Linked DNA regions of Homo sapiens: region 1 is linked to region 2. Evidence: fine-mapped expression QTL. Tissue or cell type: monocytes. Region 2 holds a variant in brackets; the other region holds the start of a gene. All regions are shown on one strand. Distances are between the middles of the regions.

Evidence for each region. PIP is the estimated chance that this variant, and not a neighbour inherited with it, causes the effect.
Region 1: it holds the start of TMED3, and the variant in region 2 is fine-mapped to the expression of TMED3 in monocytes (CEDAR, PIP 0.95).

The regions. Positions count from the first base shown.
Region 1 is chr15:79,308,639-79,313,786 of GRCh38, forward strand. TMED3 (transmembrane p24 trafficking protein 3) reads left to right here and starts at 2,474. Exons shown (of 3, transcript NM_007364.4): 1 at 2,474-2,779; 2 at 5,119-5,148. The coding sequence starts at 2,612. RefSeq lists silencers at 2,318-2,367, 2,578-2,647.
Region 2 is chr15:79,767,163-79,772,310 of GRCh38, forward strand. No RefSeq gene overlaps it. Among named protein-coding and RNA genes, the nearest start is that of TRC-GCA5-1, 25 kb to the left of the region's middle. The variant C/T (reference allele first, on the strand shown) is at 2,843.

The sequences.
Region 1 (5,148 bases), 460 kb before region 2:
GTCAGATTCATGCTTTGGTCCAAGGTTTGCCCTATGGAACATGTAGGACAAGTGTTCCCTGAGGTATGGGTAGAGGCAGTGTGTTTAGTGGGAAGCTGGTAGTCTTCAGAATTAAGCAGATCTGGGTTCACTTTCTGGCTTAGCCATTGACAAGCTGAGTGAGTCTGGATACTATAGAAGATGGCTTAACAGCCATAATTCCTTCCATCCCAGTATGACCCTCCTTTGCAATGTGACTTTGCAACTCCTCAAATCCAGAGGTAGATTCCATTTTTCCACCTCCTTGAATCTGGGCTGGCCTTTGAACTTGCTTTGGTCAACAGAATGTGGAGAAAGTCATACTGGAAAAGGTCTGAAGCTTAGGTCTCAGGGGCCTTGCTCCTTCTGCCTAGTTCCTCTTGGGATGCTGCCCTGAACCTGCCATATAAGGAAGTAATCTAGCCTATTAGATGTAAGAGGATGCTTGGAGGAGAACCGAGGTGTCCCAGCCAACAGCCTGCATGCTCTGACTAGAGCTTCTTCAATGTCAGCTCCTCCCCTGAACTTATGCAGGTGTTTTCTTGGAACTTAAATGTAAGACTTAACATTTAATCCGGAGGAATTTATTTTGATTTTTAGAGATGGGGTCTCCCTTTGTCATCCATGCTGGAGTGCAGTAGTGCAATCACAGTTCACTGTAGCCTCAGACACCTGGTGTCAAGCAATCCTCCCACCTCAGCATCCCAAGTAGCTGGGACTACAGACCCACACCACCATGCCTGGTTAATTTTTGTTTGTTTGTTTTTGTAGAAACGAGGTTTCACTATGTTGCCCAGGCTAGATTCGAACTCCTGGCTTCAAACAATCCTCCTGCCTCAGCCTCCCCAAATACTGGGATACAGGCATGAGCTATGGTGCCCAGCCCGAAATTTCTTTTTGTTAGTCTTAGCAGAGCACTCCACCTGTGCCAGGGCAATCGTGTTTTTTTTTTGTTTGTTTGTTTTGTTTTTTTGAGACGCAGTCTTGCTCTGTCGCCAGGTTGCAAACTCCACCTCCCAGGTTCAAGCAATACCCCTGCCTCCCTGCCTCAGCCTCCCGAGTAGCTGGGACTACAGGCACGCACCACCACCCCCAGCTAATTTTTGTATTTTTAGTCGAGAAGGGGTTTCACCACATTGGCCAGGATGATCTCGATCTCTTGACCTCGTGATCCACCCGCCTCAGCCTCCCAAAGTGCTGGGATTACAGGCGTGAGCCACCACTCCCGGCCAATTGTGGTTTTATATCTGTCATTTATTTCTCCACTTAGTTCATCTAGATCAGATGATTATTACTTCCATGTTTTCTATCAGTTCCTAAAAAAAAAAAAAACGTGAAATAGGACCGTGCCAGGGAAGGAAGCTTAAGGGACACTACTAAACACCTCTTCCATGCCTGTCACTGAGCCAGTCAATATTATTAACTATGTTATGCATGCATGTTATTTCCAAGCCTACAGATTGCTTTCACACATTAGCGTGTTCATCCATAGTGAATGTGGCCAGCGGAAATCTATATGGGCAGTAACATTCTTTCCTGAAGTCAAGATATACCACGTCTAGTAATGCTCTCCTGAATAAGTTATTTATTGAGTATCGACATCACAATCTACGTCTTTTCTCTTTGTTTATTGGATCACAGTGAATATAAAACTATACCTATAGTTACGATTATACAAAAGAATCTTAAGTCAGTGGTCATGGGTAAGACAGTAAACCAATTTATCTGCTTTCAGAGCTTTTAAGAAGTCAAAGTGCAAAAATGACAGTTTTGTGCAAAAAGAATTTTCAACGAGCCTGACAGCCAAAATATACCTGAAGTCGCTGCGAGACTTTACTTGGATTTTCATGAGATCGTTTGTGTGTGAGCACGCTCGTGTTTTTCCCAGAGCAGGTGTAATGATGGGTCTTTACTTACTCTCCCCACTCCCCACCCCCTTCGCACACTCTTTCACCTTGGGAAGGGTATGGGAATGAAGAAAGGAGTGTTAATCGGGTTCCCAGCGTTCCCTTATCTTTCACCTAGCTCCCTAACTACTGTGGATGTTAGGTTTGGGCACACCCATTTCAAGACAAGGAGACTGGTTCTCGAGGGAAGTGTGAGACTGAAGTTACAGAGCCTGTCAAAAGCGGAGCCTTATAGAGGGAGTAAAATCCCACGTGCTTCGTGCTGCAGCAGCTGGAGGGTGGACCTGGGTCGACCTGGGGGGATGCTCAGCCCTGCGGGTCCGGGAGCGCGCAGAACAGCGGGGAGGGCTTCTCCCTCTTCTGGGTAGGGGCGCGCTAGGTGGAGCCCCACCTCCCCTCCGCGGAGACCCACCCTCCGAGCCGGGAGAGGCGTTGCGGGGGGGTGGGGGGGGCGTGTCCCCTGGCGCAGCGCGGCCAGCGCGCACGCGCAGCGGGCGGAAGGTGCCCGGGCCCACTTTGAGCGCGCGGCTGCGCACTGAGCCGCCGGCCCTCCCGGAAGCGCAGAGCTCCGCTGGTGCCACGTCTATCCCCTTACATCCTCCTAGGACCCGGTCGGTAGTCGTCGCCCCAGCCCGCCGGGGGCGCAGCGCCCGAGCCGCGGCCCTCGAGACGGGACCGAGAGCATCATGGGCAGCACTGTCCCGCGCTCCGCCTCCGTGCTGCTTCTGCTGCTGCTCCTGCGCCGGGCCGAGCAGCCCTGCGGGGCCGAGCTCACCTTCGAGCTGCCGGACAACGCCAAGCAGTGCTTCCACGAGGAGGTGGAGCAGGGCGTGAAGTTCTCCCTGGATTACCAGGTGAGGCCGGGCGCCCGGCAGCGCTCCCTTCTCCCTCCACTCCCAGGTCTCACCTGGACACTGGCTAGCCCCTGACTGGAGGCGCTCGAATTAGCCACAGGCTACAGGGAGGCTGCATGGGGTGGGAGTCCCCGGAGACCAGTTGACTTCCCCGTGAGGAGGAAGGTTTGGGTCATCAGGGCCCACCCGAGACGAGCCTGGCCAGCGAGGAGGTAGTCAGCGCCGCAGGTGCGAGCCCGGGATGGGGACGCCAGGGCGGATCCCGCAGCCTGGGGAGCTGGCCAAAGAGATATCCGCAGGCCCCCGAGACACTAACCAACGGCAGTTCTGATCGGCTGGACACAGGCTCTCTAACCCCAGTCTCTTAGACCACCTTGTGCCTTCGAGTACTGAAAAATGGCAGCAAGAGGAAGTGGGCTCATAGTTTTAGTTTATTCCTCCCCTCTCCAGCGTTTAAAGTTGGAGTGAGGTGAGGGCAGCAGAAGTGAGAATGGGCACTTTGGAAAGGAGGGATCAGTGCAGCCATTGAGGCCTGGCGGTGTTTACAAGGAGCGGTGTGGCTGCAAGACTTGGCTCTTGCCATATGGCTTAGAAAAGCTCAGTTCCTGTATTCCTGTCTCCTTTGAGAGATCCCGTGGCCCACAGGTGACAGGAGCAGGTCTTGAGTGAGTAGTCTGCCCCGATATTTAGTGAGCAGGTCTAGGGTTGGGGGCCAAGTGGGCATCATACTCAGACAGCTATCTGCTTGTGGACGCATGCTGATAGGCACTTCAGAAATGAGGGGCCACGGGCAGCAGGAATGGGGGCAAGCTATTTGACCAGTTCCTCTGTGGTTAGAGGCACTGAAGGAAGCTTGCGCTTGGAGACAACTTCTATGTGGTAGTCTCAGTCACTGATTTGTCCACTTTCAGGTCTTTGTGGACAACATGCAAATTGTGACTGGGTTAACATGGGCAACCTAGGTGCAATGACAAAAAGAATGATAATTCTGTGGTTGCAGGGACCTCAGATGTCATCTGGTCACTGCCAGGGCGGAAATCCCTTGTCAAAGTGTGTCCAGCCTGGGTTTAAACACACTTAGCAACAGGATACTCACTGCTTTTTGCAAAGCTTGCTGAGCAGGACTAGTAACTTTTGTCCGGACAAAGAGGCCATTTAAATTTGGAAGCAGATGGAGGCCATTGACCGTGTCCTTTGATGGATCTTGGTTATAGCCATTGCCTACCTGTGAGATTTTGCTTTATGTGGGTCTTATTTTTCTTATGTTACAAGGAGAGTTTGAACTAAATGATTCCCAAAGACTCTTCCACCGCTGACACTCAGAAATTCCATGAATACTTCGATCAATATTTTTCTTCTCCTTGCATTCAGTCATTAATAATATATTGTTAATAGCTACTTGACCCATTCAGCAAGCCAAGAATGACCCTTGCTGGTGGGGGGAGGGGGAACACCTGTCTGTTATTGGAACGGAGAAGCAGGAGGTGCAGCATGCATGCTCTAGGGTGGCCCCCAAATCAGATCCCACATCTCCACTGCAACCCCAGGGGGTTAGTTTGCAGTCTGACGATTGTCCAGTAATTGGCTGGCACTTTTGGGGCCCTTGCTAAATTTATGTTGGACACCGTGCTAAACACTTTAGGTGTGATAACTTATTGACTCCTCACTTCATGGATAAAGACATATCCTCAGAGAATAAAGTAACTTGTCTAGGGTCACATGGCTAATGAGTGGCAGTGCCCTAAATCAGTGATTTGCTGTGTGTCTTGTGTTAAGTATTGAACAAAGATAAAGAATCGGTGGCATCTAGTTGCATTGGAATAGTTTCTTGGACATCCCTCCTCATCTTGCTCTTGATTTCGGGAAGCTTTATCAGCACCATCTCAGGAAGAGCAGTTATCCTGGGGTATGTTCATTCATGCTTCAGAATAGTGCAATAGGTAAATGTTTAGGCACTGGAACCAAAAGCTCTCAAGGCAGATCTCATCTCACCACTTTCTCTTGTGTAACCTTAGGGAATTTACTTAACCTTGGAACCTCAGTTTCTTCTTCTGTAAAATGGAAAGGATTAGGCTCATTGAAACCCTGCAGAGCAAACTTGGGAGTCAGGCAGGCATAGATTCAAATCTTAGCCCTTTCACTTTCAAGCAGTGTGACCACAGCCAATTTATTTAACCTTGCTCAGCCTTAGTAAAATGAGAAGTGGCGTAGCACCTGCCTTAGAAAGTTTTGAAGATGAAGTGACAGAAATGTTTGTAGAGTCTGATCACAGTGTCTGGTTGGCATTTGGTAAGTGGTGGTTGCTCCTTTGATAACAGCAATTTTTTTATGGTTGTCAGGTCATCACTGGAGGCCACTACGATGTTGAC
Region 2 (5,148 bases):
TCAACACCTTGATGACACTTAGGGCAAAACCTACATAGCTTTCTGGTCACTTTTAGGTAATTTTCTTTTTAAGTCCAGTTGCATTGAAAACTTAAACTTCTTATTATCCTGTCTCCTCTCCCAAGTGTTCTCTTAGTTACACCGACTGACCATCCATGCCCTCCATGTAGCAGGCACTCAAGTGCTGGTTCTTGGGGAGGTTAGAGGCAGCGGGGCATAAGCTTTTCAGAAAGGTACTCTCCGTGACACAGGGAGATGGCTCTGGCACCTCTCTCAATATGGAATATTTAGTATTTAGTATTTATTTTCCTCAACTTTAAGGCATTGACAGCAATTCTAGACAACACAGAAAGCCACGTTTATCAATATTCTTTCACACAAGCTTCCCCCTCTCTGGTATATCTTCTGCATTTCAGAGACAGAAACCACATTCAATAATGCCATCTGATTATCTTTGAGCAGCTCCCCATCACTAAGAGGACAATGCTTAAATTCCTTAATAGGAACTACTGTAAGGGAAGGGGGCGAGGAGCTAACATTTGCTGTAAGTCTACAGTGTGCCAACCACTTTACATGGGTTATTTTATTTGAAGTTATAACCCTCTTGAGAGGTAAGTCTTATTATTCCAAGTTTTTAATTAAAGTAAATCAGTCACAGGAAGATTAAGTAGTTACCTACAGCACATAGCTATAAGCATAGATGTGGGATTTGAACCCGATTCTAAATCTAAACTTAAAACCTGAACCCCGGTTTCCAAGGCCCAGCTGATCCCACTACTACACTTTGCTGCCTTCCTTCCTGATGTGGAACCTTTGTTTCTGAGCAGGGGCTCCCAACCTAGGCTGCACATTGGAGTCACCTGGAAAACCATTTCTGAGCAGGTGGGGGTGAGGGTGGTCTAGAGGAAGATAGCTTTTGAAAAGCCCCAGGGATTTTAGTGTGCAGCCAAGGCTGAGAACAACTGCTTTAGAGCTCATCTCTGACCTCTTTCTTCCAAGCGCTCTGCTCTAACCTTACAGAGATTCCTGGGGGCTCTCCCACATGGGGCTTGCTTATTCCACCTCCAGGCCTTTGCACATGCTATTCTCTCAGAGTAGAAAATCCCCCCCATGATTTCTCGTCACACAAGATTCAGTCCCAGTGTCATCTCCTCTGTGAATCGTTCCCCAGACCCCATTGGCACAGTTTCTTGCTCCTTTATCCTCAAGGCACATTATGTATAAATCTGTTGCCATTTATCCCAAGTTATTTTAATGATTATTGAACAGTAATTCTTCCCTTTGAGAATCTGAGCTCTTTGATAAGTATTCTCTGTTTCTCCATCTCATAACATCATCCATGACCCAAATCAGGCCCTCAGAAATATTAGTTAAATTAATAAATTTCACTTTCATAGGAATAAAAATCATAATTGGGCAAGGAAGACTCTACTTGTTCTCAGATTCTTCTGTCTCCACCTGTAGTGAGCTTGACCTTGAAACCACATGGGTGGGGTCTTGATATACAAAGAGCAATAAAGCAGCTGCAGGAGAGAGCTGGCCTTGCAAATGTAGCCCCTTAAGGTGACAGCTTATGCGGCAGCTGGTGTTCTGCTACCACAGCCAGGCCCAGCTCCTGGCCGGACCCTTCTTTGCCTGCTGTCCCGTTCCCTGGGCTCCATCTGCAGAACAGGACAGCTCCCATTGCCCTTTCTCTTCACTCCAAGGAACACTGCATTGTAGATTTAACTTGAAGTTCAAAATTCCCAGAAACACTCCACTTTAGAATAGTGACACTCAGAGTGGAAGGTAGGGCTGGCACCTACCTAGCGTGTCCCATCAGCGTCTATGAGCCACTGTCATATGTATCTTCTCTTATAAGCCTCTAAACTCCTCTCAAAAGTAGGCATTATCATACTCATTGAACAGATCAGGAAAGCATAAGTCAGCAGGAACAAGGGACTCATCGCTCATTGCACAACTAATCAGAGACAGAGCCAGGATCCAATGCCAGGTCCCCAGGCCCTGGAGCCAGCACCTCCATCCCTCAGGGCCGCCTGATTCCACCGGGGACATTCCTAGGAGGTGAAACAGAGTTTCTCAACCTTGGCACTGTTGACACTTTGGACTAGATAATTCTTCTGTACAGGGGCTGTGCTGGGCACGGTAAGATGCATCCCTGGCCTCTACCCATTAGATGGCAGTAGCACCTCCCAGTTATGACAACAAAAAATAAAAATTGCCAAATAACCCCTGGTGGCAAAATGCCCCATGGATGTTCACAATGTAAAGGATTTGACCCCATTCCAGTCTCAGATCTTGCTTGCAAATAACTGAAACTGATCCTGGTTCACTTAAGGGGAGAAAAAAGGGATGCATTGGAAATGGTATTGGATGACTCATAAGATCCACGGGGATGCCGTAGAATAAGATTCAGAAAAAAAGAGGAGGGAACAGAGGGGGCCAGATCACCAAAATCACACCACAGGAAAACTTCATTCATCCTTCCAACAAATATTTAATCTAACAACGATGGATGGAGTGCCTACCATGTGCCAGGCCCTTGGGATACGTCAGCAAACAAAACAGACAAAGCGCCCACCCCCATGAAGCTTGCATTCCAGTGGGGAAAACCATAAGCAATAAACATTTTAGAAAGTAAGTAACATGATATATTAGAAAATGGCAAATGCAGCCTTTTTAAAAAGTAGAGGAAGATAAGGGGGAGACGTGGATGCTGAGAGGGGATAGGGAAAGATAGGCCTGATTTAGTCTAGCTGAAACATCACTGCCACACGCAGGTCACTCACTACTTCTGGCACCTGCCTGCTGCCCACTGGAGACCATGAATATCACTTCTATC[C/T]TGAGACTGTAGAGGTCATTGCTAGAGGAATGAATTCTCTGTCCCTTGCTTCTCACCATCGCTAACTCCAGCTTTACTGTCTCAGGTAGGAGCATCTGCTTGGACAAGCCTGGATCACATGACTGCATCCCAGCTCACATGACTGCATCCCAGCAACCCAGACATGGGATGGCAAATGTCTGACCATTTTGGCTTCTATAGTAGGACGTACACATCAGATGCCGGGCTGAAAAAAATAAAAGAATGCCCATTGTGAGGACATAACCTCAGAAATTAGGCCAACAGGCAGGACCGATGAGAGGAATGAGGTAAAGAGATCAGAACACATTAGCAGAGGGTTTATGAAATGAGATTCTGATTCCAGAGGCCAGCTCAGTGGAGCCCATTATGTGTCTTCTTATAAACAGGTCCTTTTAAAAAATCCAACAAACTGTAAATAATTCTGTACAAACTAGATTTCCACTTCAATGAGTCTGTGTTAAGCAAAGTCTGATGAAGAAAAATCGAGCCATTTAGATTGCTGTTTCCATAACCAGGATGGAGTATCACATTTAAATTTGTAGGAACAGTGATTAGGGCACGGGGGGGTCATCGTTTCAAATGCAGCATCTCTCTCCTGTGTTGTATTAAGCACCTCTTCTGGCTGTTTGCCTGAACACGAGGTCTTGATTCATCCTCTAATTGTTGTCAAGATGCAGTTCAGTCACGAAGGTCAAAAAAACAAAATGTCTAAATCGGCAGCAAAATGAACATTCATGCTCCTTCCCATTTCGTTAATCTATTTAAGCCAATTTTGCATCTATTGTTTATGAGATTTTCCTACTGGTTGGTGGCTTTGCAGCACATGTTCACTCAGGACACTCTATCACAGCCATCCTGTTGTTGATGGCCAAGAACTACCAAGATTAGTAGGTAGCCATGCTATACCAGACACTAAATATTTGAACACCTCTCTGGTAGAGCCTCGGGGGAAATTGGCCCTTCTTCTATGTAAGTCATGAAACAGAAATTTGGAACTGACCTTATGGGGTATGGGATCCACTTCACAGGAGTGAAAACAGAGGCCGAAAAAAGCAAGGACTTCCTTAAAGATACACAGTAAGCCCCTGCCTTCCTGGCTTCCTTCCTGGTTCAGGATGAGAATTAAGATCAGCAGAACTTAGAGCAGCTCTGGCCAGTGGAAATACAATGCAAGCCACAAATGCAAGCTGCACATGTCATTCTAAATTTTTCAGTAGGCACATTTTTAAAAGATAAAAAAAGAACCAAGTGAAATAAGCACAAATAATATATATTTTATTTAAATCAGTATATCCAATATATTATCATTTCAACATGTAATCAATAGAAAAAACTATTAAGTCTTTTACATTCTTTACTAAGTCTTCAAACCCCAGTGTGTGTGCATTTTCTATTCGCAGCACATCTCCATCAGGAGTAACTGCACGCAGCTCCTGAGGCTGCCATATTGGACAGCGAGGGAGCCTGCTCTATTTTTGCATCTGGGAAGTTCTTTCTCTAATTAACCAATGAGTTCTCAAAAAACTCTTTTAAGAGTTAGCAGAATGTGAAAAAAAAATAGTGTAATCATTAGAATTTCAGGTTGGGCAGTTGGAAGAATTTCAGTGCCTTGCAATGTGTTTCCAGGGAAGATTAAGTGCATTTCCCTCTCTGGCAATTTTAAGGAACAACTGGACTCCACAAATAGCCATTGAGGGCTGACAGTGCACCAGGTACTGAGCCAGCTGCTGAGGATGCCCCATCAACAAGATAGGCTTTCCCTGTCCTCAAAGCTCTTGGCCCTCAGCAGAGGAACAATCTATGCAAAGAAGGGGGTGGGGATGAATCCACACCATGTCTGCGGTCATGGGATTCTAGCATTGCTCTGTGGGACACCCGTGGCCACTGGAAAGAGAATAGAATAAAGTGCTGGAATGTAGAGTGCTAATAAAGCATTCCTCTTCTTTCTAGGGCTTTAACCAATTGAGAGATGCCACAGAATTCAGATGGTGATCAATGTGTCAGTCTGATGGCTGCTAGTTAGCTCCAAGGATAAAATAGTCTTCCTTCTCCTTCCCCGTGAGGGAAATCCTAGTTACAGAGAGAATAGCTGTAACTCCTAGTTACACAGAGAACAGCTGGACACCTGTGTCTCTCCTCACCAAGAAGCTAGGCTTGCCACACACAAGAATGCATGAAAAATTCCCAGAAAATGCCATGAAAAATGCCCAGAAAAAGAGGGCCAATGAGAGGGGAAATTAGGCTCTGCAGGGGCAATGCCCTATTCTAACCTCATCATCAGGTGA